Linked DNA regions of Homo sapiens. The protein of the gene in region 7 purifies or fractionates together with the protein of the main gene of each other region. This does not show direct contact. Each region holds a gene or a part of one and is shown on either strand. Other genes may lie near its edges. The genes, in order: PDCD10, NCR3LG1, CMSS1, DNAJC2, PPP1R12A, MCTS1 and MILR1.

What was found.
Region 1: the proteins of MILR1 (region 7) and PDCD10 purify together in Homo sapiens (affinity purification with mass spectrometry; one large-scale study listed by BioGRID and IntAct). This does not show direct contact.
Region 2: the proteins of MILR1 (region 7) and NCR3LG1 purify together in Homo sapiens (co-immunoprecipitation; one large-scale study listed by IntAct). This does not show direct contact.
Region 3: the proteins of MILR1 (region 7) and CMSS1 purify together in Homo sapiens (affinity purification with mass spectrometry; one large-scale study listed by BioGRID and IntAct). This does not show direct contact.
Region 4: the proteins of MILR1 (region 7) and DNAJC2 purify together in Homo sapiens (affinity purification with mass spectrometry; one large-scale study listed by BioGRID and IntAct). This does not show direct contact.
Region 5: the proteins of MILR1 (region 7) and PPP1R12A purify together in Homo sapiens (affinity purification with mass spectrometry; one large-scale study listed by BioGRID and IntAct). This does not show direct contact.
Region 6: the proteins of MILR1 (region 7) and MCTS1 purify together in Homo sapiens (affinity purification with mass spectrometry; one large-scale study listed by BioGRID and IntAct). This does not show direct contact.

Annotation. Positions count from the first base shown.
Region 1 is NC_000003.12:167,728,216-167,732,452, forward strand, and holds part of PDCD10 (programmed cell death protein 10), read right to left. Parts: intron 1-4,237. UniProt on the Homo sapiens protein: Promotes cell proliferation. Modulates apoptotic pathways. Increases mitogen-activated protein kinase activity and STK26 activity. Important for cell migration, and for normal structure and assembly of the Golgi complex.
Region 2 is NC_000011.10:17,361,432-17,365,668, reverse strand, and holds part of NCR3LG1 (natural cytotoxicity triggering receptor 3 ligand 1 precursor), read right to left. Parts: intron 1-4,237. UniProt on the Homo sapiens protein: Triggers NCR3-dependent natural killer cell activation.
Region 3 is NC_000003.12:100,177,585-100,180,506, reverse strand, and holds part of CMSS1 (protein CMSS1), read right to left. Parts: intron 2,203-2,922; coding exon 2,119-2,202; 3' UTR 1-2,118.
Region 4 is NC_000007.14:103,320,303-103,324,539, forward strand, and holds part of DNAJC2 (dnaJ homolog subfamily C member 2), read right to left. Parts: coding exon 4,180-4,237; intron 3,362-4,179; coding exon 3,296-3,361; intron 2,493-3,295; coding exon 2,401-2,492; intron 2,331-2,400; coding exon 2,209-2,330; intron 1,780-2,208; coding exon 1,630-1,779; intron 1-1,629. UniProt on the Homo sapiens protein: Acts both as a chaperone in the cytosol and as a chromatin regulator in the nucleus.
Region 5 is NC_000012.12:79,795,347-79,799,583, forward strand, and holds part of PPP1R12A (protein phosphatase 1 regulatory subunit 12A), read right to left. Parts: intron 3,239-4,237; coding exon 3,148-3,238; intron 2,050-3,147; coding exon 1,849-2,049; intron 1,605-1,848; coding exon 1,436-1,604; intron 414-1,435; coding exon 292-413; intron 1-291. UniProt on the Homo sapiens protein: Key regulator of protein phosphatase 1C (PPP1C). Mediates binding to myosin. As part of the PPP1C complex, involved in dephosphorylation of PLK1. Capable of inhibiting HIF1AN-dependent suppression of HIF1A activity.
Region 6 is NC_000023.11:120,606,847-120,611,083, reverse strand, and holds part of MCTS1 (malignant T-cell-amplified sequence 1), read right to left. Parts: intron 2,860-4,237; coding exon 2,726-2,859; intron 74-2,725; coding exon 6-73; intron 1-5. UniProt on the Homo sapiens protein: Translation regulator forming a complex with DENR to promote translation reinitiation.
Region 7 is NC_000017.11:64,462,233-64,466,469, forward strand, and holds part of MILR1 (allergin-1 isoform Allergin-1L precursor), read left to right. Parts: intron 1-3,219; coding exon 3,220-3,309; intron 3,310-4,209; coding exon 4,210-4,237. UniProt on the Homo sapiens protein: Immunoglobulin-like receptor which plays an inhibitory role in degranulation of mast cells. Negatively regulates IgE-mediated mast cell activation and suppresses the type I immediate hypersensitivity reaction.

The DNA.
Region 1 (4,237 bases), on a different chromosome or scaffold from region 7:
GAAAGATGTGCAGTTCTCAATAAAAAAAAAAAAAGGATTCCAAATGCTTTGGAATTAAATGAAAAAAAGCCTAGCAACAATCTAAACTCGTATAGGGTGCAGTTGCTGTCTAGAGGCCAGGTCTGACTCATTTAACATTCCCAACTGGCTTCTGTTGTAGTAACCTTATATAAGTCTGAGGAGGCAGCCGGTGTGTAACATCTTAGGGTTTTGTCATTCCATAACTTCAATCTCAGTTGAATTCCAGTCTATCTTGAAGTAAGAGAGAATGACTGAATAAGACAGGGAGACCCATTTCAGTGCCAGGGACCAGATGGCAGTTAGAGAAACAATCATTTATTTTTCTATCAGCTCTAACCTAAAATTGTAAAATGAACTGATGCACATGGAAGTACTTAGTATATTAGAAAGACTAAATGTCCATACAATGGTCTTTCAACCCTTTCCCCTTGTATCTACTGAAGTATAAACTCCCTAAAGAGAAGTTGTATCCATTTCTCTATTTCCTAGTATCCAACACAGTATTCTGCATAGTCAGTCTAAGTCAGCAACAGTGTTAGTTGGAGATATGGTGATGAAAAGTCAAACAGCACATACCCTTGAAGGTATGTAGTCTTGGCAGGGAAGAGAGACAGTAAAGAAATACAGTGACATGTCACACTGCCACTTGGCATTAACACTCCAGGGAGCGTACCTGCTTCACATGATACTCCTACCCTATGCAAGTTCAACAGACATGGTGAACATTTGTTTGAAGAAAACAAACAAAAAAATAACTTCACTAAAAATAACTACTGCAGTATGTGATAATTCCATTCCCTATGCAAAAGTCCCAGAATGAGACAGATAAGAAACGTGGATCTGCCACTCCCCACACCAGACTGAGAGCCACAGTGAGCTCTCACAAAGAGTAGCTTGCCACACTGATTGTGACTCTTGTATTATAATATACATATTTCTTTTTTCAATATGGTCTCTGCATAACAAGTCAAACACTTCACCTGGTACTCAAAAGAAATCTACTCCAATGCTAGAAAAAAACTGGCTGTGTTGAAGTTGTTAGTCTACAACGTGTATTTCCTAATAGGTTTTTTAAAAAGTTTGAATATTAAGTAATTTCTGCCTGCCACACTGACCTTAGCATTTAAGACATAACTGCTCTGTAACTACAACTCTTAATGCTAATTTCTCTCTCCAATGCAGTTCAATCACTAACATCATTTTTACTATAATGATGAAAAACATGGTCTCTTGAGTCAGCCAGCCTGGATTCAAATCCTAATTCCAAGCAATTTTTCCTGCAACCGTAGGCAAGTTCCTTAACCTCTCTGTACTTTAGTTTCCTCATTTAAAAACTGGAGATAATAGTGCCTCTACCTCGAAGGGTTGTCGTAAGGATTATAAGAGATCCTGTAAAATGCTTATTAGCATGAGACTTGGCACTTAGTTACTTAATACTCAATAAATGCTAGCTATTATATTAGGTTCCAGTTCATTCCAAAGAAGGTTTAAGGCAATTTCACAAGTAATATGCATTCAATAAGTAAATGAATCAAAAAGTCATTATTTAGACTAACCTCTGGTAAACTTATTCCCAAGGGACCAGCCTAAGTATATGTTAGTGACTACCACTTAACATGTTCCACTGCTGTTACCCAATAGTTCATAAGCTTGTTAATAAAATTCTTTTCTTTTTCTTTTAACCCTATAGGCAACCTGGATTCTATCAACTGTATAAGAATGAAACTGAACAGCAGAAAATCACTTTTGGGTGATTTTAAAAATGGTTATACATAACCAAAAATGTAAGGGTGAGCTTGAAAAATAAGTGTAATATAATACACTTAAGACACATTTAAATTTTGTAGCTTAAATGACAAAATTGAAATTACCATCTTCATACAGACAAAAATGAACCATCAAACCACAGTGTTTATCTTTCAGCACATAAATTATTTCTAATTGCTATAATAAATGTGCTTTCATTTTTTGCATTGTGTGTGTGTGTGTGTCCCTAAAGCATAACCCTCTAACACTGCAGCTTACTATAATATTTCAAATGCAATAACATAGATAACAATGACATTTAACTTCTAAATCACTTTTACAGTTTATATTATGGAAAAAATTACTTATCATGTAAGTGGCTTAAAATTCTTAGTAACACCTATCATAATGATATTAATTATCCAACAACATATAAAAAGCAGTATTTCAGTTTTATCCTCCACATACTGGTTATGCTAGGTAAATATGAAAATTTTATCCAAGATTCAAGTAACATCAACACTGACTTTTTAAAAAGTAAGTTTAGGATTTAGCAAAGACTTGTTTTTAATAATAAAATGGATAGTATTACCAAATTTTAAAGCCAAATTATCAGCAATCTCTTTTTGACAAGATCTTGTGGAAGAGTAAACTGGTAAATCCATGAAGGCATACAAGGCTACAGAAACTCAGGGCTGTTGACCTTACTCTATGCCATACCGTGGTACTACAAATGACTGCAGAACTTGTTTCCAAGACCAAAACCTAACACAATTTATCCCTAAAATTCAGTTTGTATGTTTTAAAAATAATCTTTTTATGCTTAAGTCTCCAGCTATAAAGCAAATAAGATTAGAAAAGTATTAGAAAAATTTTCAGGAAACCCAAAATATAAGTTCCTTTGAAACAAAAACTACTCAATTTTACAAAGCCACCTTGTCTAAATCAAGTGATATTAAAGGTATAATTCATAGGAAGATAGCAAGGTTAAAAAGCAAGAAACAAAACAAAAAAGCAAAGAAAAAGAAAAAATTATGGATTCTAGAATACGGAGATAGATCCAGATTCTAACCATGGTTCCAGTACCAACGTTCTGGAAACTCTAGCAATTTAATTAAACTTTTTTTAGTTTAATAAGTAAATTTACTTATTTTCTTGATGTCTTCAGCTATAAAACAGTATTAATACTACTACCTAGAGGAAATAAAGGTTTTTAGGGCAAAACGAGACAACATTAGGGAAGAAGAGTCCATTAGAAGTTTCTTCCATGTCTATATTTTGTTATAATGAATATCGCTTGCAAAAAGCAGGACAGTGATAAGTCTCTAAAATGCTGTGTTACACAGCAATTCTGCGGCAAATGAAAGTGATTCCTTTATCATTTCCACTTAGAAAATTAATCCTGATTTCAGAGACCTCCAAAAAGAACAAACATTTTTCCACAATTTATATTAAAATTCTGTCAATGACTCCTTTACATATAACCTAAATTGCCTAAGCATTATGGCTCATTTGAAAGTTCTTATATACTTCAATCCAGAAAGCATATCCGCTTTATTCATTTCTCTATTTCTGTCCCCAGAGAAGTGCTGGAAGCACTGTGCATGAATACACTCCTTCATTCATTCAGCAAATATTTACTGAACCCTTACAATGTGCCAGGTACTGCGTAAGTAGTGGGGTAAAACATGACAAATGAGAGGGCCCTGCTCAGGGAGCTTATAGTCCAGTGAGGAGACAGTATTTGTCAAATAAATACAGAAATAATTAAGTTTCTATTATGATGATGCCACAAAGGAGTACAGAGTATGGTGAATACATGGCGGAAACCTATTCTGATTTTGGGAAGGCGGGCAAGGCTCCCCTGACGAACGATATTTAAATTGAGACGTGAAAACTGACTACCAGGTGGCCACATTTAGGTAGGCGTGAGGGGAACAGTCCAAGGAGTGAGACGGAATATGTAAAGGCCACCAAGTCAGGAAGCAGCTTATGTATGTAGTAACTGAAAGGCATGGTAAATGAGAAAGGCTGGAGATAAGGACGGAGAGCTGGATAGGAGAAGAGATAAATTTTTAGTGTTAAACAGAGTAAGAAGGTAATAGTATTTGAATATTTAAGTCACGTTAAGTCTTCTTCTCATGTAAATAATCTAAGGGAACTAAGTCTTTACTCCAAAATATTAAAGATCTGTAGTCAGAAGATCTCGATTTTGTCTTACTCCCACCAGTTACAAGTCACTTAACCAACTTGAGCCTCTTCATTCTCTTTGTAAATATTATCTTACCTACTCAGACTACAATAATAAACAGCCCCTATTCTTACAGACCTTACATCCTTAAGAGAAACAGACAGATGTATAATATACGGAAGACATCCCAAGTCCTCTAAGAAATAATGTCCAAAAGCTGACATAAGGCTCCTGCAAAGTTCAAAATGAGAAGAAATGCAGACACTGGTGAGCTGCAAA
Region 2 (4,237 bases), on a different chromosome or scaffold from region 7:
AAATCTCCTCCTCTTTCTGGGGGATGGAAAGAAGTAATCATTTTAAAATATACCTAGATTATTCCCTCCATCTCAAGGGAAGATGTCAGAGCCTTATCTGACCTGAGAGAAGAAAATTAGCCAACTCCAGCTGTCTATAGCCTTTCTGTATTACTTAAGAAGAGAGAAAGAGAAAAGGCTAAGAAACACTTCTGAAGGCCACAGTCCAGAGGCTCAGGCCACTAAAAGAATAAGATTTAATCATAAAAGTATAAACAGATTCTCCTCCAACACTTTACTACCACATCAACAGGGCTCCAGTATAATAACAGAAGATTATAAGTGAGAGAGCTACAAGGCACAGAACCTATTTAAGGAGTTCATAAGGAAACCCAAAGACAATAGGAAAGGAGAGAAAAAAACACTAGAGAAACTGAAGTCTCTGGCACCTATAGCTACAATAAGCATTAAACACAACCCAGCTCCTAGCCAAATTAACATAAGGCCGCATAATAAAAGCCTATTACCTGATACATAATATCTCTCTTTCAACTAAAAAATTACAAGGCTAAAAAATACATAAAAACAAAGCAAACATCAGACCCAGACTCAGGTATGACACAGATTTTAGAATTATCATATAGGGAATTTTAAAAAACTATAATTAAAATGTTAAGAGCACTAACAGAAAGAGCAGATAACATGCACAAACAGATGGATAATATAAGCAGAGTGATGGAAATGCTAAGAACGAACCAAAAGTGAATGCTAGAGCTCAAAACACCATTAAAGAAATGAAGAATGCCTTCAGTGGGTTCAACAGTAGACTTGAAACTGACAAGGAGGCTGAACGCAATGGCTCATACCTATAATCCCAGCACTTTGGGAGGCCGAGGTGGGTGGATCACCTGAGGTCAGGAGTTCGAGACCAGCCTGACCAATATGGAGAAACCCCATTTCTACTAAAAATACAAAATTAGCCAGGGGTGGTGGCGCATGCCTGTAATCCCAGCTACTTGGGAGGCTGAGGCAGGATAATCACTTGAACCCAGGAGGCGGAGGTTGCAGTGACCTGAGATCACGCCACTGCACTCCAGACTGGGCAACAAGAGCAAAACTCCGTCTCAAAAAAAAAAAGAAACTGACAAGGAAAGAATCAGTGAGCTTGAAGATGTTAATAGAAACTTCCCAAACTGGGCACGGTGTGGTGGCTCACACCTATAATCCAAGCACTTTGGGAGGCCAAGGTGGGCAGATTGCTTGAGGTCAGGAGTTGGCGACCACCCTGTCCAACATGGCAAAACCCCGTCTCTACTTAAAAAACAAAAATTAGCCAGCATGGTTGTGCACACCTGTAGTCCCAGCTACTCAGGAGACTGAGGCACAAGAATTGCTTGAACCTGGGAAGCAGAGGTTGCATTGAGCCAAGATCCCGCCATTGCACTCCAGCCTGGGATACAGAGCAAGACCCTATCACAAACAATTTTTAAAAAAGAAACTTCCCAAACTGAAATACAAGGAGAAAAAAGAATTTAAAAAAAACCCCAGAATAGCCAAGAACTGTGGGATACTGCAAAAGGTGTAACAGATATATAATGGGAATACAAGAAGAAGAAAAGAGAAAGGAGCAGAAGAAATAATTTGAATAAATAATGGCTGAGAATTTTCCAAAATTAATGATAGACACCAAACTAAAGACCCAGGAAGCTTAGAGAATACCAGGCATGATAAATATCCAAATATGCCTATCCACGTCTAGCCATATCATATTTCAACTTTAGAAAGACAAAGATGGCCAAGCATGGTAGCTCACTCCTATAATCCCAGCACTTTCAGAGACCAAGGCAGGTGGATCACTTGAGCTCAGGAGTTCGAGGCCAGCCTGGGCAACATAATGAAACACCATCTCTACAAAAAATACAAAAATTAGCCATGCTTAGTGGCACCCGCGTGTGGCCCCAGCTACTTGGAAGGCGGAGGTGGGAGGATCACTTGGGCTTGAGCCCACTAGGGTGAAGCTGCAATGAGCCGTGATCATACCACTGCACTCCAACCTGGGAAACAGAGTGGGACCCCATCTCAAAAGAAGAAAGAAAGAAAAGAAAAGAAAAGAGAGAAAGAGGAAGGAAGGAAGGAAGGAAGGAAGGGAGGGAGGGAGGGAGGGAGGGAGGGAGGGAGGGAGGGAGGGAAAAGAAAGACAGAAAAAAGTCACAGGAAAAAAAACACACCTTACATATAGAAGAACAAGAACAACACTGGACTTCTTGTCAGAAACAATGCAAGCAAGGAGAGAGTGAAGTGAAATATTTAAAGCATTGAAACTTAAAAAAGAGAAAAACACCAACATGGAATCTTATATCCAGAAAAATTTTCCTTCAAAGGTGAAGTATAAATAAAGACTTTCTCAGACAAACCTTTCACCAATAGACCTGCTGTGCGAGAAACATAAAAAGAAGTGCTTTAGTGGGCCAGGCATGGTGGCTCATGCCTGTAATCCCAGCACTTTGGGAGACCAAGGTGGGAGGATCACTTGAGCCGAGGGAGTTCAAGACGAGTCTGGGCAACATAGACTCCATCTCTTAAAAAAAAAAAAAAAATTAAATTAGCAGGGCATGGTGGTGCATGCCTGTGGTCCCAGCTATTCCAGAGGCCGAGGTGGGAGTATCGCTAGTGCCCAGGAGGTCAAGGCTGCAGGGAGCCATGATCGCACCACTGCACTCCAGCCTGGACAGCAAAGCAAGACGTTGCAGGAAGAAAGGGAAGAGAAGGGAAGGGAAGGGAAGGGAAGGGAGGGGAGGGGAGGGGAGCGGAGGGGAGGGGAGGGGAGAAAGAAAGGAAGGAAATGAAGAAATGAAGAAAGGAAGAAAGGAAGAAAGAAAGAAAGAAAGAAAGAGAGAGAAAGAAGGAAAGAAGGAAGGAAGGAAAGAAAGAAAGAAAGAAAGAAAGAAAGAAAGAAAGAAAGAAAGAAAGAAAGAAAGAAAGAAAGAAAGAAAGAAAGGAAGGAAGGAAGGAAGGAGACACTGAGTCAATAACTAGTAAAAAAAAAAAAAAAGAAGAAGAAAAAAATCACCTTCCAAAAAGGAAAGCACCAGGTTCGGATGGTTTCACTGGTTAATCCTACTAAACATTTAAGGAATAAATAATGCCAGTTTTTTACAATTTCTTCCAGAAAGTAGAAGTAGACAGAGGGAACACATTCTAACTTATTCTACAAGCCCAATATTATCCTACTGCCAAAACCGCATAAAGACATTACCAGAAAAGATAACTACAGATCAATATCACTCATTAAAGTAGATACAAAATCCTCAAGAAAATATTAGCAAATATAATCCAACAATACAGAAAAAATTACATACCATAACCAAGAGAGGCATATTACACATATGCAAGGCTGGCTTATCATTCAAAAATTGGTTAATGTAAGTCATCATATCAACAGGCTAAAGAAAAAATTATATGATCATACCAATAATGCAGAAAAAGTATTTGACAAAACCCAAGACTGATTCATATGAAAAACTCTTAGCAAACTAGGAATAAAAGGGAAACTTCCTCAACTTGCTAAAGAATATCTACCAAAAAATAGCTAATATCATATTTCATGGTTAGAAAGTAAAATCAGAAATGGACAAGATGTCCCTTCTAACCACTCCTGTGCAACATTGTAATGGAAGTCTAAGCTAGCATAACAGGACAAGAAAAGGAAATAAAAGGTATAAAGTTAGAATGGAAGAAATATGAGGCCTGGTACAGTGGCTCACACAATGTAATCCCAGCACTTTGGGAGGCCAAGGCAGGGGGATCACTTGAGCTCAGGAGTTCAAAACCAGCCTGGGCAACATAGTGAGACCTCACCTCTGTAAAAAATAAAATAAAATAATGGAAGAAATAAAACTGTATTTTTAACAGACAGCCTGATTTATGTAGAAAAATCTCAAGACTTGGCCAAAAACAAAAACAAAAACAAAAACAAAAAAATCCCTAGAATGAATAAGTGATTAAAGCAAGTTGCAGGATACAAAGTTAATAAGCAAAAATCAATTATTTGACAGGAATGAACAATTGAGCAACTGGAATTTGAAATTAAAAATATAATACCATTGGCCAGGTGTGGTGGCTCACATCTGTAATCCCAGCACTTTGGGAGGCCGAAGCTGGTGGATCATTTGAGGTCAGGTGTTTGAGACCAGCCTGGCCAACTTGGTGACCCGTCTCTACTAAAAATACAAAAATTAGCCAGGCGTGGTGGCGCATG
Region 3 (2,922 bases), on a different chromosome or scaffold from region 7:
AACTTTGAACTTGGGAGAGATGACTTAGGGTATCCGGCAGAAATTTCTAAGCAGCAAAGTGTTCAAGAGGTGGCCTGGTTGCTTCTAAAAGCCTATGCTCATTTGCATAAGCAGAGATAACTTATATTTAAAAGCAAAGCAGAGTATAAAAGCTTGAAAATTTGCAGCCTGACCATGTGGTAGAAAAGAAAAGCCATTTTCTGGGGAGAAATTCAAGCTCACTGCAGAAGTTTGCACAAGAGGAGCCAAATGTTAATAGCCAAAACAATGGATAAAATGCCTCCAGGGCACTTCAGAGACCTTCGTGGCAGCCCTCCCCAGCCCCACCAAACAGGCCCAGAGGCCTAGGAGGAAAAAAATGGTTTCGTGGGCTAGGCCCTGGGCCCAGCTGCTCTGTGCAGCCTTAGGACATGGCAGCCTAATTCCCAGCTGCCCCAGCTCCAGCTGTGACTAAAAGGGGCCAAGGTACAGCTGAACCATTGCTTCAGAGGGTGCAAGCCCCAAGCCTTGGCAGCTTCCACGTGCTGTTGGGCTTATGGGTGTGCAGAAGGCAAGAGCTGAGGTTTGGGAGCCTCTGCCTCAATTTCAGAGGATGTATGGAAACGCCTGGATGTCCAGGCAGAAGTCTGCTACAGGGGTGAAGCCCTCATGGAGAGCCTCTACTAGGGCAGTGCAGAGGGGAAATGTGGGGTTGGAGACCCTACACAGAGTCCCCACTGGGGCACTGCCTAGTGGAGCTGTGAGAAGAGAGCCATCATCCTCCAGACCCCAGAATGGTAGATCCACTGACAGCTTACACTGTGTACCTGGATATGCTGTAGGCACTCAACACCAGCCTGTGAAAGCAACCATGGGGACTGTACCCTGCAGAGCCACAGGGGCAGAGCTGCCTAAGGCCTTGGGAGCCCACTCCTTGCATCAGAGTGGCCTGGATGTGAGACATGGAGTCAAAGATTATTTTGGAGCTTTAAGATTCAAAGAGTGCCCTGCTGGGTTTCAAACTGGCATGAGGCCTTTAGCTCCTTTGGGCCAGTTTCTCCCACTTGGAATGGGAGCATTTACCCAATGCCTGTACCTCCATTGTATCTTGGAAATGACTAACTTGTTTTTTATTTTACAGGCTCATAGGTGGAAGGAAGTTGCCTTGTCTCAGATCAGACTTTGGAGTTGGACTTTTCAGTTAATGCTGGAATGAGTTAAGACTTTGGGGGACTGTTGAGAAGGCATGATTGTGTTTTGAAATGTGAGAAGAACATGAAATTTGGAAGAGGCCGGGGTGGAATTGACATGGTTTGGCTCTGTGTCTCCACCCGAATCTTATGTTGAATTATAATTCCCAATGTTGGGGGAGGGACCTGGTGGAAGGTGACTGGATCATAGGGACAGATTTTCCCCTTGCTGTTCTGCTGTTCTCATGATAGGGAGTGAGTTCTCACAAGATCTAGTCGTTTAAAAGTGTGTGGCATTTCTCCCTTCACTCTCTTGCTCTCTTGTCGCCATGTGAAGATGTGCTTGCTTCCCCTTCACCTTCTGCCAAGTTTCCTGAGGCCTCTCAGCCATGCCTCCTGTACAGCCTGTGAAACTGTGAGTCAATTAAACCTCTTTTCTTTATAATCTACCCAGTCTCGGGTAGTTCTTTATAGCAATGTGAGAATGGATTAATATACCTGCCACCCTTTTTGCTGGGACCATGCCTCAGAGTTTACAAATCTGCTCCCCATGTACTATCTCCTGGAATCCTCAACAATGCTGTGAGACATTCCCACTTTGAGTTGATAAGATGGGGCTCAGAGAGGCAAGACCTTACGCTTGCCTAAGGTCACCCAGCTGCTCTTTCCTTTCTCCTGCACAGTTACATCAGAAGCCAGTTGGTGACAGAAAAACACGGTCCGCTCAACAAGGATCATACACAAGCCGGTGATACTTTATTATATAAGAGAGTTGTCAAAAGGACAGTTTCATTTCTGTTTCAGAATCCCCACATTCCAGTGATCCATCTGTTGACACAATTAACATAAACTATTTGCTGATATTTACTGAGTGCTTGCAATGTATCAGAGTCATTAAATAAGATGCAACTTCTACTGTGAAAACTGGAATCTTCATTAGGACACAGACTTAGAAAAGGCCCAGTTTCAAGGATTCTGACTTGCACAGACTGAGCACTCCCATTTCCAGAAGTTCGAATACCTCCTTTCTTATCTAAATGAGAGAAAAGGGGGGAAAAAAAGATTAAGATCAAGCCAAAATGGTCTTGGTGAATACATTCAACCATCAGGACTCCCTGATATTTACCCAGCTGTTATGGCCAGAATCAGAGAGTGCAAAAGTCCTAACACACATTTGATTCAGAGTTGAAATTTTTAAAATTATTATTATTATTATTTTGAGACAGAGTCCCATTCTGTTGCCCATGCTGGAGTGCAGTGGCGTGATCTCGGCTAACTGCTATCTCTGCTTCCCAGGTTCAAGTGATTCTCATGCTTCAGCCTTCTGAGTAGCTAGGATTAGAGGTGTGTGCCATGATACCTGGCTAATTTTTGTATTTTTAGTAGAGACAGGGTTTTGCCATGTTGGCCAGTCTGGTCTTGAACTCTTGGCCTCAAGTGATCCACCTGCCTTGGCCTCTCAAAGTGCTGGGATTACTGGTGTGAGTCACTGTGCCTGGCCTATTATTATTATTGTTTTGTAGAGACAGGGTCTTGCTTTGTTGTCCAGGCGGGTCTCGAACTCCTGGCTTCAAGTAATCCTCCCACCTTGGCCTCCCAAAGCACTAGGATTACAGGTGTGCACTGCCATGCCTGGCAGAATTAAAATATTTATATAAATGAAGGAGGAGGTACTATATAAAACATTAGTTTCATTAAAGTGCCCTTTTGTTTGCAGCCATTCAAAATAAAATGCTATACAAAGGTGTTTCAA
Region 4 (4,237 bases), on a different chromosome or scaffold from region 7:
TGGTCTTGAACTCCTGACCTTGTGATCCACCCGCCTCAGCCTCCCAAAGTGCTGGTTACAGGTGTGAGCCACCGCGCCCGGCTGTTTTTAACTTTTTCTAAATTTCAGGTGTACATATTTCAGTTTTCAACCCTGATAGTTTTTTTCTAAACATAATCATCTTACCATTATCAAACCAAAAAACAAGTTAATATTCTAAAACTGTCCCAGCACTTTGGGAGGCCGAGGCAGGCGGATCGTGAGGTCAGGAGATCGAGACCATCCTGGCTAACACAGTGAAACCCCGTCTCTACTAAAAATCCAAAAAATTAGCCGGGCGTGGTCCCAGCTACTCGGGAGGCTGAGGCAGGAGCATGGCGTGAACCCAGGAGGCGGAGCTTGCAGTGAGCGGAGATTGCGCCACTGTACTCCAGCCTGGGCGACAGAGCAAGACTCTGTCACAAAATATATATATATACACATATATATATATATATATATATTCTGAAACTGTGTCTATATTCATATCTTCAGTTATCTCAGCATGTCTTTTTTTTTTTTTTTTTTTTGAGATGGAGACTCTGTCTTGTTTAGTTACATTTGCATAGTAAAGAAAAGAAATACATTTATGCTTGGCCAGGTGCAGTGGCTCATGCCTATAATCCTAGCACTTTGGGAGTCCAAGGCAGGGGGATCACTTGAGGCCAGGAGTTTGAGACCAGCCTGGCCAACATGGTGAAACCCCGTCTCTACTAAAAATACAAAAATTAGCTGGGTGTGGTGGTATGCACCTGTAATCCCAGCTACTTGGGTGGCCAAGGCATGAGAATGGCTTGAACTTGGGAGGTGAAGGTTGCAGTGAGCCGAGATGGCGCCACTGCACTCCAGCCTGAGTGACTGAGACCCTGCCTCAACAACAACAATAACAAAAACTTAATTAGAAAAAGTTTTTTTGGCTGGGCACAGGTGGCTCATGCCTGTAATCCCAACACTTTGGAAGGCTGAGATGGGTGGATCATGAGGTCAGGAGTTCAAGACCAGCCTGGCCAACACAGTGAAACTCTGTCTCAACTAAAAATACAAAAAATTAGCCAGGCGTGGTGGCAGGCACCTGTAATCCCATCTACTCAGGAGGCTGAGGCAGGAGAGTTGCTTGAACCCAGGAGGCGGGGGTTGCAGTGAGCCAAAATCGTGCCATTGCACTCCAGACCAGGTGACAGTGCGAGACTCCATCTCAAATAAATAAATAAATAAAAATAATTTTTTTTTTTCAAGAAATATTTTGGCTGGGTGCAGTGGCTCATGCCTGTAGTCCCAGCACTTTGGGAGGCCAAGGCGGGGAGATCACTTGAGGTCAGGAGTACAAGACCAGCTTTGCCAACATGGCGAAACCCTGTCTCTACTAAAAATACAAAAAATTAGCCAGGCGTGGTGGCACACGCCTGTAATCCCAGCTACTCGGGAGGCTGAGGCAGGAGAATCGCTCGAACCCGGAGGCGGAAATTGCGGTGAACTGAGATCGCGCCACTGCACTCCAGCCTGGGCGACAGAGCGAGACCCCATCTAAAAAACAAACAAACAAAAAGAAGTATTTTTGCTTAATAAGCAACTTGATTTACTTGTGCCTAGTGTTTGTTCAGTCTGATATACCTTGCATGAGTTTCGAAGTTTTTGCCTTTCCTTCTTAATGGCTTTTTTCTGGATATCTTTTTCCTTCTTTGCCAGCAATGCTTGCTGTCTGACTTCCTCCTCTTCTTTCTCCTTAGCTAACCGAGCAGCTTCTAATTCAGCTTGTCTTTGCTTTAAAAAAAGGGAGTAAAATCATTTTAATAGGTACAGTAAAATTCCTAAATGTTTTATAATTTTAAAAATTTAAACTTTTAATAAATTATATTAGGAAAAAAGGCAACATAAACTTATTGAAAACTGAAGGATGAACTCGGAAAGACAGCTGGTAAAGATCTATAAACATTTATTAGAAAATGTAAAATTGACATATTAGAAATAAGCATAATATTAAAGGAACTTATGACACAATTTTTTGCTCAATAAAAACGTGCTGGTAAGGAAGATCTCTCAATTATACCAACTGGTCATGATTCATTCACAGTAGCACCCAATTCTCTGCTTTCGAATTATAGTTTTTTTTAAAAAAAGATGTGAAGATTAAAGTGAAGATTAAAGATTTCATAAACATTTAAAGTCCACCTTCATTAAATGTTGTCTTACTTTTTCTTTAGCTTCTTGCTCCTTCCGTTTAGCTTCTGCTTTTGCTTTCTTTTCTGCTTCTTTCTTGGCTTTTTCTTCTTCCTTGAACTTTTTTATCCTTGGATCACAGCTGTATGCATTGTCTAGCAAAAGAAAAAGTTAATCTCATTTTGAATTTCTAACATTTAGGGGACTTAAATCAATTCTACTTACCAACTAATGTTCTTATTCTGTTCATTTCTTCTTTTTTTCTTTGTGCTCTTGTTGCTCTGTTCTGCTTTTCAATCCATCTCCTCTCATCACGACTATAAAATAGAAAATATTGGAAACAAACTACTGCTTATAGATGCTATGACTGGAAAATGCAATATTTTATAAAATATTTATATGTACATAACATCCTAGAGGTTAAAATGCTGTGTCATTACTAACATTAAACAATGATTTTTTTTTTTTTGAGACAGACTTTTGCTCTTGTCGCCCAGGCTGGAGTGCAATGGCGTGATTTTGGCTCATTGCAACCTCTGCCTCCCAGGTTCAAGTGAGTCTCCTGCCTCAGCCTCCGGAGTAGCTGGAATTACAGGTGCCTGTCACCATGCCTGGCTACTTTTTCTATTTTTAGTAGAGACAGGGTTTCGCCATGTTGGCCAGGCTGGTCTCGCACTCCTGACCTCAGGTGATCTGCCCGCCTCAGCCTCCCAAAGTGCTAGGATTACAGGAATGAGCCAGCACGCCCGGCCTAAACAGTGGTTCTATTTAATATTAATTTTGGTTATTTTTTGCACATTCATGTCAAAAGCATTTCTGCACACATACAAAAAAAAAATTAATAAAACCTAGGTTAAGCAACCAGAAGAAAAAGATTTTGCTGAACTGAGCTATCTGACATTATATTCCTTGGCAATTTCTTAAGCATATCCTAACCAATTATTGATCTGGGCCCACCTAGTTTAACTTGTGAGAAAGGATTTCAAAATATTAAAAAATTGTTTAAAAAAGATGTACAAAGAGAAAATATGAAAGAAAATTTACGTGACAATTTTTACATCATCACAAATACCAGAGAACCAAATAAATACCTTCCATTATTAATGATTTGCATACATACCATTCTGCTTTTTCTTTTTCTTCTTCATCTAAATAAGAAAATTCTCTCCAAGAATCAAAATTATACCTAATATAGACAGAAATAATACATGATCAAGACAGAATAAATGAAAAAAAATTCTTTTTAATGCAAGTGAATGAATTTGTTTTAATGGATACCTTTCCTTCCCTTCTAGTATTGAACTAAGGTCAAGTCTTTCTCCTTTTTTAAGGACATTGCATTTGGTATGAAAATCTAAAATGCACATATCACTCCATAATCAAAACCACACCGCCCTGCTATCTCTTCTTTGTTAGGTTTTTCGCTTGACCAAGACCTATTTTTAAGTTTTCCTTGCCTTCAATTTCGCTAGTCTGTCAAGTCTGAAGGTAACCCTAGTAGTGGTTATCTCATCTCCAGTTTGTATCCTCTGAAGGTAAAAGCAATTACAACTGATAGAACTAAATCTTGTTATTTTTGTTCTATGTGATTTTATGTTTTTGTATTTACTAGACATTTGATGAGAAAATGTAGCACATATAAAATGGCCACTAACTATTGCGCATATTAAAAATTAGTGAATTAGTTACAGAGACAAATAGCACTGTCTCCTTCCTCATGAACTCAAGTACTTTTAGTAGGAAGTAACTAAATAAAAATGTACTTATTTTTATTCAAATGACTCCCCAATTTTCATTTTTTACTACTATCATGTGCTTGATATCTAGAAATCTCATTAATAGAAAATCTTAAAAGTGTAAATATCACATAGGTAACAGAGTGCTTTTGTTCAGTGAAGGTTCTGCAATTTGTCCATCTGAATTAATTTATAAACAATCAAGTACTTATTGAATACTTTTCCTTTTAAAAAATGACAGCATCATACAAACAGTATATTCACTTACCAGAAAGAATAAAATATATCTACATCTTCAAATGATGAATTCATATCACCAAGTTTAG
Region 5 (4,237 bases), on a different chromosome or scaffold from region 7:
AAGAAGCAGTTTACCTATTATAAAATAATCAATACATGCACTCTGAGCTTCAGACATTATTATTTCTATTCCATAATTAGGTCAGAACCACTCCTTTTAAGTAGTACCAACAATCTAAGTAGTTAACTATCCTTAAAAATAATTTTTCTTATTTAACAACTCAGAAAACACAGTGATGATTTAAGGAATATGAAATCTAAGGCATATAAGAAATTATTAGTATGTATTTTTGGACACATTAAGAATACTATCAAGAATACTATCAAATAATGTATTTTAATAGGTTCTCACATCTTGTGTCCAAAATGAAACTCCTGTAGATCTTCTTTTCTCTCTTGGTCGTCGTCGTTCTCTGATTGATTTAGGTTGTGATTTATCTTCTCCTTCTTTCTCCTCTTCTCTTTTTTCTCCCTCTGTTAAGGATTGCAATGAACCACAATATAGCAATATATCTTGACAATATTTTGCAAGGTAATTGTAAAAACAATGGGTAAAATGGGCCAGGGGACTATCTAGGGGGATGGAAGGTAGGCAGCTGCTACTACTTAGCTCCAGCCAATTGTTGGTATGTGAGAATTCAGATCCAGTGTTGCCAGGTCAGCCAACTTTTCAAGAAATGGCAAAAATCTGAAGTTTGAAGTGAGTATCTCTAATTTTAAATGTTGGTTCAACATTTTTACAAACACAATGCAGGCCTCACACATAGAAGTTTAAAGAACTGAAACATCTCAATGATCAACATGAGAAAATATATAGCTGGAAATTGGGAAAAAACTTTATTTTCTGCTGTTTATTCTACATTACTACTGATATTATCATGACTAATACTGTAAGATTTAGGCTTTAAAATATGAAATGCCTATATTTAGTACTTATATCTGATTTAAAGTAGGAATTACTCAGAATTTAAATAGAAAGTTTATATAAAATAATAGGAAATGGTAATGAGTATCAATATGCCAATATATAGTTGAGAAAGAAATGTATTTTTTAAGAAATAAGCATAAAAATGTGTTTTAGTGAGAGCATTACATGTAGTTAGTAATTTTAGTTTACAACAATTTCACAAAAAAACATTTAAATGATATGATCTACACAGTAGGCAAGAAATAGCTTAAAGCATCTGAGAAGTACTACACTAGTAAACTGCTTCTAGAAATAGTCACCCACCAGTTCGATATTAACTTTTCGTTGTAGGTGGACATGAAGATTTTTGTGAAGTATTAGGTTATAAAAATATTAGTATCAACAGCAGGCCATATTCTATTTCTGTTTTCTACTTTTCTCATTCTCAACCTTCATATTCTTTCTGTTTAGGTTCGATGAATCACAAGTTAGGATGCTGTTCCTTTACTGTTGAATTATTATTTAGGAAACCCTAATCCAAAGGATTATATGAAGAAAGCAAAGTGTTTTCAAAATTTGGTATTCTTACCTCTTTCATTTTCTTTTGTTATTCCTCTGGAGTAAGCAGAAGTTATGCCTACAAGACTATTTGGCCTGTTTAGTTGACTTGAAGCATACAGTGAACTGCTCATAGTAGAAAGTGAAGAGGATGGAGTGGTTGAACTTGAAGTTGATACTGGCCTATAACGCTGGTAAGTCTGTGAAACATTAAGATCAAAACCCATTTGAAACATTAAACACAATTAAAAACATAAAAATACTTAAAAATTCATTTCAAAGAAAAAGTAGTATACTAATCACGCCAAAGTAATTCAAATTTCCAGCTAAAATCCTTTACAGTATTTTGCATATGGTTTGTTGGTATATAAATCTCTTGTATGTTAAGGATCATAAGGACTATTCATACCATTTGACTTAAATGTGCTTTTGATATACTGTTACCTCATCATACGTTCTGGAGTACTTTTGTTTATATTCATCTTCTCTAGATGTTTCTGACTCCTTCTTTTCTTCTTGTTTCTCTTTATCTTGTTTCTCTTTTTCCTCTTTTTCTTTTTCTTCATTTTCTTGTTCTCTGGTTCGGGTAGAACGACTTCTTCCTATTGTTTTCTCAGCTTCTTGAAGATCAGTTAATGTCACTCCCTGCACACACAAAAAGATCAATATAATTATGAGATGCATTAAAGCTTGTTTCAAGGAATATTTTAGAAATAGATATATTACATACAAATGCATTAAAAGTCAAATATGCATGTTTAAAATTGGTTTGCAAATGGAAACAGCAAGTTACATTCATTCTATGAAGAATCACCATTAGCAAGCACAACGATAGGTACTGGATACTCTATGCATATAAATGTTCCCCACAAGTTCAAACTAGAGAAGAATAGCCAGTATCTGTACTGTTTGTATATTATAAATATTTATGTTTATATATATGTCTGTGTGTGTGTATATATATGTGTGTATATGTATCTATATACACATGCATGATGATTGTTAAGGCTTAAAAGAGATTTCGATAAATTTTTCAAGATTTGACCTTGAAGAACAGGTTAGATTTCAAGAAGTGAAAAGTATAAAGACAGAAAAAGTATATTAAGGCCCTAGCAAATAGTTCAGCTTGAAAGCTAAGTAATGGTAAGGATAGACAGCTGAATCTGGACTGTGGAGCTTCTTAACTGTGGGAAAGCAGAAAGACACAAAAGTATACATCATATACAGCATAATCAGAATGGCAAAACGGAGGTAAGGAGATCGCCAGCCTGAATGACATTTTCTTCATACTTGCATATTAGTTGTTTATACCTAATATACGAGCCTATTCTCTGCCCCCGATTTCCAAATATTCATAGAACTTTTAAATACTTATTAGACATCATATGATTAATTTATTCTAACCAAATACTCTGGGCCAGACACTGTATTAGGAATAAGGATTTAAAAAATACTCAAAAAGACACAAAGGCATATGCTAATTAGATGAAATACAATAGTAGCAGTGTAACCATACAAAAGGCTATGAGCAACCTTTACCTTTTAAGGATTTATTCACACTAGAATTACTAGAATAACTACAGCAACCTTTACCTTTTAAGGATTTACTCACACTATATACTGACATCAATATTTTCACAACAAAGTGAAAAAGAGAAAGGTAACTTGTTTTATGTCAGTGTGTGTATATATATTTTATATGCTACTTATGTAAGTTTTATATATTAATTACATTAACTATACCTGTGTTGATCTTCTAGATTGTCTTGCTTGTCTAGATCTTGCTTTTCTTTGGGATTCAGACTCTTCATCCCTAACAGGAGTGAGGTATGATCTACAGTAGTAAATTGAAAAATCGTTAGTTGTAAATACAATACCTGTGAATGTAAATATCTATCAATGCATATGAATAAAACATACAGGTTTAATATCTTAGTAAGTTTTAAGGAAAAGTCTTCAGAAAATGGTCTTTGAAATTCAATAATGCAATCTTATAATTTCTTTTTAGATTGGAACTAGTTATATTTTAATAATTATATTTTAACATCACATTTTAACTTCCTAACTACATTTTTTAAAATAATGTAATTTAATTTTAAGATGGAACCACATTTTTAAAAAGGATTTAGAGAACTGAAGATTAAAAATTTTAGCTCTATTGAAAAAAATAGAAGGATTTCATTTAGCCCAATTAAGCAGAATGGATAAGGAGTAAATTTTTTGTCTGTTTTTAACTGAGGAAGGTCCTCTTCTCCAGCCCTGAAAACATCCCCCAAAAGTGATAATCTAAGCATCTTACTTAATGACCTACTAAAAGGGGTTTTAAATTATTCTCTACCTACAGTATTTTCAAATATTGGAAGACAGGTATCAAATTCCTTTCTAAATCTTTTTTTTGTTTGTTTTGTTTTTTTTTGAGACAAAGTCTCGCTCTGTCGCCCAGGCTGGAGTGCAGTGGCGCGATCTCAGCTCACTGTAACCTCTGCCTCCCGGGTTCAAGTGATTCTCTCACCTCAGCCTCCTGAGTAGCTGGGACTACCTGCACATACCACCACGCCCGACTAATTTTTTTATTTTTAGTGGAGATGGGGTTTCATCCATGTTGGCCAGGCTGGTCTCGAACTCCTGACCTCAAGTGATCTGCCTGTCTCGACCTCAGAGGGTGTTGGGATTAAAGGCGTGGGCCACCGCGCCCGGTCTCCCTGCATTCTTGTCAGTGTGCTCTTACTAATGACACGTCAGACAACATATTATTGTTCATACTTTTGAGTGCTCTAAAAAATTCCAGTGTTTTTTTATATATAAACAGCTTTTAAATCAGCATGTTACTTCT
Region 6 (4,237 bases), on a different chromosome or scaffold from region 7:
CTTACATGTCTTCTGCAGACATCTTCATGACTCCAACACATAGAGCATGCTGTTTTCCTTCTGCCATGATAGCCTGAAAGAACACAGCTAAGAAAACTATTTATCAAAATGCCTTGGGGCCTCCCCATCAAGGGAAGGGTGTCAAATAATGATCATGTTACTAGTTAAGCCACTTGGAACCCCTCTTGTGTCTTCTCCTAGACCATTAACTCCTTGAGAGCAGAGACCTAGCAGAGTCTGTGGGTACACTGTAAATACTCAGTAAATGCTAAATGAATAAATCTAATAACCCCTTTTCTTTCAAGTCAAATGTTAATACTATAACCCCATGCTAACAAAACCAGAATAAGTCACACAAAAAAGGAGTAAAATTTCTTGCACATAAATACTAAAAACTGTGAAATCAATAAATATTAATTGTTCTGATTAATTATTCTGATCACTGACTAGTGGGGATTTTTGTTTGTTCTTGAGACAGAGTCTCACTCTGTTGCCCAGGCTGGAGTGCAATGGCGCAGTCTTGGCTCATTGCAACCTCTGCCTCCCGGGTTCAAGCAATTCTCCTGCCTCAGCCTCCCGAGTAGCTGGTGCTACAGGCGTGTGCCACCACACCCAGCTAATTTTTGTATTTTTAGTAGAGATGGGATTTCACCATGTTGGCCAGGCTGGTCTTGAACTCCTGACCTCATGATCCGCCTGCCTCAGCCTCCCAAAGTGGTGGCATTATAGGCGTGAGCCACCATAGCCGGCCGTTTGTTTTTTTGAGATGGAGTCTTGCTTTGTCACCCGGCTGGAGTGCAGTGGCATGATCTCAGCTCACTGCAACTTCTGCCTCCTGAGTTCAAGCAATTCTCCTGCCTCAACCTCCCTAGTAGATGGGATTACAGGCGCATGCCACCCCACCCAGCTAATTTTTGTATTTTTAGTACAGACAGGGTTTCGTCATGTTGGCCAGGCTTGTCTCGAACTCCTGACCTCAGGTGATCTGCCCGCCTCAGCCTCCTAAAGTGCTGGGATTACAGGCATGAGCCACCACACCCGGCCTGAATGGTGGTTTTATGTAAAGGCTGTTTTAAAATAATAGGTAAATTCCCAGTCTATCTTTAAGAGCCTGATATAACAGTTTCAACCTTTCTAGAAAAACCAGAGTGGTCTTGGTTAACATATGAAGTTTCTGGAATGTTAAACACTGCAGTACATATTTTAAAAAGTCAAGATTCAGGGTACACAAGACCTCTCTGTACCATTTTCTTTAACAACTTTCTCTAAATCTGTAACTGTTTCAAAATAAAAATTATTTTTAAAAGTAAAGACTAGGTACTAAGGAAATTTTCCATTTAAGGTTAACTCCAGAACTATAAATTTACCAACACTTAATAAATATTAAAAACAAACAACAACAACAAAAAACCCGTCCTCACTTTTCTCCCTTGATTTTCAATTCACTCAGTGTTCCAAATATGTGAGCACCTATTAGGCAAAAAGCATGTCAACATAAGCTGTTCCTAGAATATAAACATACTACTTATACTACCTCTTCGCTATAACTGCCCCAACAGAGAATATCATTTTTTTTTCTTATTCTTCTTAAACACACCCCTGGCCAGGTGTGGTGGCTCACACCTGTAATCCCAGCACTTTGGGAGGCCAAAGCGGGTGGATCACCTGAGGTCAGGAGTTTGAGACTAGCCTGACCAACATGGTGAAACCCTGTCTCTACTAAAAATACAAAAATGAGCCGGGCGTGGTAGTGGGTGCCTGTAACCTCAGCTACTCGAGGGGCTGAGGCAGGAGAATTGCTTGAACCCAGGAGGCAGATGTTGCAGTGAGACAAGATCGTGCCACTGCACTCCAGCTTGGACGACAGAGCGAGACTCCATCTCAAAAACTAAAATAAGATAAACACACTCTAAAAGTAGTTTCCCTATTCCCACCAAGTACCATTCCTTTTCTATACCCGAGGCAAATGGCTACTTTAGCTATGATAAAGGAGAAGATGTTCTCCTGTCCAGAATAGTCACAAAAATCTATTTAATCCAGAAAATAGCTGAAACAGCATGGTAGAAATGGAAATAATGCAGAATTATTCAGCTATGTCATGAGTTGAATCGATCTTTAAGGACCATCTGGGACTCTGACATTTCTCTTTGAGAAAACGTGCTCTGAGGCCCCCAAACTCAACTTTTCAAATAATTAATTTTCAAAATAAAAGTTGGAGGTTGCCAATATTTCCCACTATTCACTCCTAACACAAAATTGTTGCTTGGTAAGAGATACCTATACCTGGTGCCTAAATTCTTTTCCCTTTTGAGAGCTTTCACTCCAACGTATGTCAGTAAGTCAAAATGAACATTACAGTGGCAAGTTGATATCCAAAAAGCTGATCCAATTATATCATCTATATCCTTTCCCCTAGTAATCAAGAATTCCCTATTGTGTCCTAAGTCTGATAACAGTAGGCCCTGACTGGGCTGAAATGCAGCTGAGACTCTTCTGTAACTTGTTCTCATTTAACTTCTAAGAAACGACCTAAGATGAGATAATTTAGTAGCAACAAATAAAATTACTTTGTACAACTTCAAATGTAACCAGAAAGGCATGAGATAAGAGTAACAGTAACCTTCAAAAAAGTACATCTAATGTTCTCTTGGATGGTACACCTTTCGCAGTAATGATAAGAGCACAATGAATACATTTTTCAGCAGTTTTAGCCTGGGAAGGATACAACAATGGTATCTACTGCAGCAGGGTAAAGCTTAGCTCCAGGAGAAGTTAAGCCTGGACACATGATATTTGCTCCACTGAGTACAAATTTGATGGCTCCTTTATCAACCTGCTGGTGTGGCAGGATAAAAGGATCTGTAAGAAAAGATATACAATATATTAATAATAAGACTAATGACTCAACAGAAAAAGGCAAAGGATCTGAACAGTATTTCCCCAAATTAATCTGACAGATACAAAAGAAAACTCTGAAACACTATCATTTGTTTACCAAATTGGTAATCTTTTTTGTTTGTTTTTTTGAGACAGGGTCTTGCTCTGCCACCCAGGCTGGAGTACAGTGGAGCAATCAATACCTCACAATAACCTTGAACTCTTGGACTCATGCAATCTTCCCGCCTCAGCATCCCAAGTATTCTCCAAAAACCGTAATTTCAAAACTATGGTTTTTGGAGACTACTTAATATGCCCTGGGAAATTTTTGTGATATAATGTTAAGTGAAAAACGCAGAGTAAAAAAACGATTAAAAAGATCAGTGGTTACCTGGGGTTGGGGAAGTGGGGGGAGGAAGGATGAATAGGTGGAGCACAAAGGATGTTAGGCCAGTAAAACCATTCTGTATGATACTTTAACAGTAGATACTTGACATGTATTTGGGAAAAACCATAAAACTGTAGAATACAAAGAGTAAACCCTAATGTAAACTAAGGACTTGCGTTAATAATAATGTATCAATGCTGGTTCAATTGTTACAAATGTATCATTCCAAAACAAGATGTTATTCATAGGGGAATCTGAACTGGGGAGAGGGAACTCTATTCTTTCTGCTTACTTTTTCTGGAAACCTAAAACTGCTCTAAAAAATAAAAGCCTGTTAATTTAAAAAAAAACTACAAGGGGATGAGGAGAAGTTGGTTAAGGGGTATAAAAATACAGGTCGATAAGTTCTAGTATTCGAGAGTACAATAAGGAAATTATATTTAACAATGATTTACTCTATATTTCAAAATAGCTAGAAGAATTGTAATCTTCTCAACACAAAGATAAACGTTTGAGGTGACAGATACCCTAATTACCCTGATTTGATCATTACACGCTGTATAAAGGTATCAAATATCACATGTACCCCTAAAATATGTACAACTATTATAAATATATATAGGTGGTGGGGGATACAGGCACCACAACAGCAGACAATGTACAGCTATGACGTATCAATTTTTAAAAACTATGTAACAGAGAGCCCAATTTTAAAAAAAAATGCATTTACACACATCACAGGAAATACCTGGACGGAAGGACACTTAGTCAATGCTTTCCCATATATAGACTTTTCTCTATTAGGCAAATAGATACAAATATAAAAGATGAAAATGCTCACAATGCTTATCACAGTTTGTAAATACATATTTGCGTAATTATCTAATTGTTGTTTATTCTCCAAACTAGACTATTAGTTTCTTAAGGACAGAGACAATGTCTTTGCTTCCCATTGTATTCTCAGCACCTAGC
Region 7 (4,237 bases):
TTGCCCAGGCTGGTCTCGAACACTTGGGCTCAAACAATCCTCCCACCTCGGCCTCCCACAGTGTTGGGATTATAGGCGTGAGCCACTGTGCCGGGCCAAGAACTTGTGTTCTTAATTAAACACAAGTTTAAGGCCTGTGAACAGTGTTCATTTCGCACTGGGCGCTGCAAGTGGTGCGGCTGCTCCTGACTGCAAGTGCCTCAAGCGAGAGCTTTGCCTTGAGTGACTCTAGATCTGCCACATACGTAGGGGAGGTTCAGTGCATGAGGACAAACAAGCGTCATCCCATTAGCACAAAAGACACCTTCAAAAGGTTTACAATTGTTTGGGGCTGGAAGTATTGAAAATATTAGGTTGGTGCATAAGTAATTGCAATTTTTGCCATACTTTTATGGCAAAACCCACAATTACTTTTTTTTTTTTTTTGAAATGGAGTCTCGCTCTGTTGCCCAGGCTGGAGTGCAGTGGTGCAATCTCGGCTCACAGCAGCCTCTGTCTCCCTGGTTCAAGCGATTCTCCTGCCTCAGCCTCCTGAGTAGCTGGGATTACAGGCACCCACCACCATGTATTTTTAGTAAAGACAGGGTTTCACCATGTTGGTCAGGTTGGTCTTGAACTCCTGACCTCAGGTGATCTGCTCGCCTCAGCCTCCCAAAGTGCTGGGATTACAGATGTGAGCCATTACGCCCGGCCCACAGTTACTTTTGCACCAACCTAATATATACATATTTTTTATTTCTACATTTCTATGCTTTCTAGATTTTCAATGTAGAAGTATAATCTATTCTACTATAAGATTTTTTAAAAAACTTTATTAAACACACCAGACTCAAAAAAACAAAAACAGAAACAAAAAAGCATCATTTCTCTCTTCCCCACCTTAAGTGCTACATCCAGCAGAAAACTTGTCAATGTTATTAGAAGCCTCAGTTACAGCTTTTTTAAAAAAATGTTTTTTAGAGACGGGGTCTCACTGTGTTGCCTAGGCTGGTCTTGAACTCCTGGACTCAGGCGATCCTCCCACCTCAGCCTCCCAAAGTGCTGGGATTACAGGCATGAGCCACTGCACTCAGCCCAGTTACTGCTTTTCATTCCTCACGTCTTATGGCCACCACTGGTTAAGCCTTCAAAGTGGTTTTTTCATTTGGTACACGAGTGCAGAAGGATATGAAGATTTACACAAAAGACAGTTTGGGTCTCAGCACTGGCCCCCATCAGCAAGCTGAGGGCTGTTGGACAAGCCCCTCAGGCTGTTGCTTCTGAGCCTCAGTGTTCTGAGTTGTGGAATGGGCCATGGAGATATTGTCAGAACTGGCAAGAGAACCAATTGAGAACCATCTCCAGAGAGTCACAACTCAGAGAAGTCAGGGACTCAGTTGACATAAAACTTGAACACAGAGGTCACAAGTTATACATCTGATGCATCTTTAAGATTTTATTTTATTTCATTTCTTTTTTTTAGAGATGGGGCTTCACTGTGTTGCCCAGGCTGGAGTGCAGTGGTGCCACCATAGCTCACTGTAACCTCCCACCTTAGCCTCCCTAGTAGCTGGGAATACAGGTATGCACCACAACTCCTGGCTAATTTTTTTTTTTTTTTTTTTTTTTTGAGGCAGAGTCTCGCTCTGTTGCCCAGGCTGGAGTGCAGTGGCACAATCTCCGCTCACTGCAACCTCTGCCTCCCAGGTTCAAGCGTTTCTCCTGCCTCAGCATCCTGAGTAGCTGGGATTACAGGCGCCCACCACCACGCTAGGCTAATTTTTGTATTTTTAGTAGAGATGGGGTTTCACTATGTTGGCCAGGCTGGTCTTGAACTTCTGACCTCGTGATCCGCCCACCGCGGCCTCCCAAAGTGCTGGGGCTGGTGAGCCACCGCGCCTGACATTTTTTTTTTTTTTTTTTTTTTTGAGACAGGATCTCACTTCCATCACCCAAGGCTGGAGTGCGGTGGTGCAATCATGGCTCACTGCAGCCTTGACCTCCCAGGCCTCCTCCTGCCTCAGCTACCTGAGTAGTTGGGACCACAGGCGCGCACCACCATGCCTGGCTAATTTTTTTTTTTTTTGTAGGTTTCACCATGTTTCCCAGGCTAGTCTTGAACTCCTGGACTCAAACCATCCTCCTGCCTCAGCCTCCCAAAGTGCTGGGATTACAGTTTTTTGTTTTTTTTTTAATTACAAAATTCTTTTTAGAGACAAGGTCTCACTATGTTCCCCAGGGTGGTCTTGAATTCCTGGCTTCAAGTGATCCTCCCACCTCAGCTTCCCAAAGCACTGGGATTACAGGCGTGAGCCACTGCACCCTGGCCCACATCTCATATGTCTTAAAAACATGTTTCTCCTTCTTATAAAAAGTCCAGGTTCTTGCAAAAGTGGCATTAATATTTTTGATTACTGGCTGGAGCTACAATAGAATTCAGTGAGGCTGGCCGGGCACAGTGGCTCATGCCTGTAGTCCCAGCACTTTGATCACCTGAAGTCTGGAGTTTGAGACCAGCCTGGCTAACATGGTGAAGCCCCGCCTCTACTAAAAATACAAAAAATTAGCCAGGCATTGTGGCACATGCCTGTAATCCCAGCTATTCAGGAGGCTGAGGCAGGAGAATCGCTTGAAACCAGGATGCGGAGGTTGCGGTGAGCGGAGATTGCACCATGGCACTCCAGCCTGGGCAACAGAGCAAGACTCCGTCTCAAAAAAATACAAAAATTAGCTGGGCATGGTGGTGCACAACTGTAATCCCAGCTACTCGGGAGGCTGAGGCAGGAAAATCGCTTGAAACCAGGATGCGGAGGTTGCGGTGAGCCGAGATCACGATAGTGCCACTGCACTCCAGCCCAGGCGACAGAGCGAGACTCCATCTTAAAAAAAAAGAATTCAATAGGCCATTTACACTCTCTTGAAGATATTACAAAGCTTCCACAGACTATTCTCTTCAGCGAAGGAAAGAAAATAAGTCTGGCTAGTTCAGGCATAATCTGATAGGCAAAGCATGTTCCTCTGAAGGCCAGGAAAATAAATCAGAACAGCCCCTGGCTTGGAGGAGCGGTGTCTAGACTCCCTGTTGAGTCTATAGTTTTCCTTTGTTAGACAACAGTTTGGGCCATTGGAGCAAGTCACTCTCTGTTTCAGAACTTTGAGGGAATTCTGCTCCTTGGCCGAGGAGATGAGAAAAATGTGGCTGAATTGGTTTAATTTGATGATTCCTACCTATTTACGTAGGAAAAGCTATGAGAAATAATGTGCCCAGGGACCGTGGAGACACAGCCATGGAAGTTGGAATCTATGCAAATATCCTTGAAAAACAAGCAAGTAAGAGAACTTTGTTGCGTGTTTTGGGTGGTTTCAGGTTTTTGTCTTTTTATTTTGTTAAGGTTGTACAGACATACGGGAGTGGGGGGTGGAGCAAAAGGGATAGAGTTCAATGTCTATTGATGCCCAGTCCCACTTTCTAGGGGTAATAACCAGTTTTTTAAATCCTTCCACAGATATTCTGTGTGTATAATAAACAAATGGTAGTGATTGTAGCATATTGTAGGTATGACTTTCTACACCATGATTTTGTTTTTTTTTCATGTAACAACGTATCTTGGAGATTTTTCACATCTGTTCAGAATGATCCACACTGTGTTTCACAGTCTTTCACGGTCACCTCTCAAAGCAGGCATTGCATATTGCTTTGCAGTAAACAAGACCCAGCGCCTCGGCTGATGTATTAGTCCATTCTCATGCTACTATAAGGACATACCTGAGATGGGGTAGTTTATAAAGGAAAGAGGTTTAATTGACCCACAGTTCCGCAGGGCTTGGGAGGCCTCGGGAGACTTACAATCATGGTGGAAGGGGAAGCAAACACATCCTTCTTCCCAAGGCGGTAGGAGAGAGAAGAATGAGAGCCAAGGGAAGGGGGAAACCCCTTATAAAACCATCAGATCTTGTGAGAACTAACTCACTGTCACTAGAAGAGTATGACAGAAACCACCCCCATGATTTAATTATCTCCACCTGGTCCCTCCCATGAGATGTGGGGATTATGGGGACTACAATTCAAGATGTGATTTGGGTGAGGACACAGTCAAACCCTATCATCAGCTGACAATGGAACAGTCCCAGCCTACATGGCCACATTCCAGACGCATTGCTGAGCAATTTACCGACCTTTTCTAACACAAACGCCACCAACCCCCAATTTATGTCATTCTCATTTTACAGAGGAGGAATCTGTGCCAGAAGTGGGATC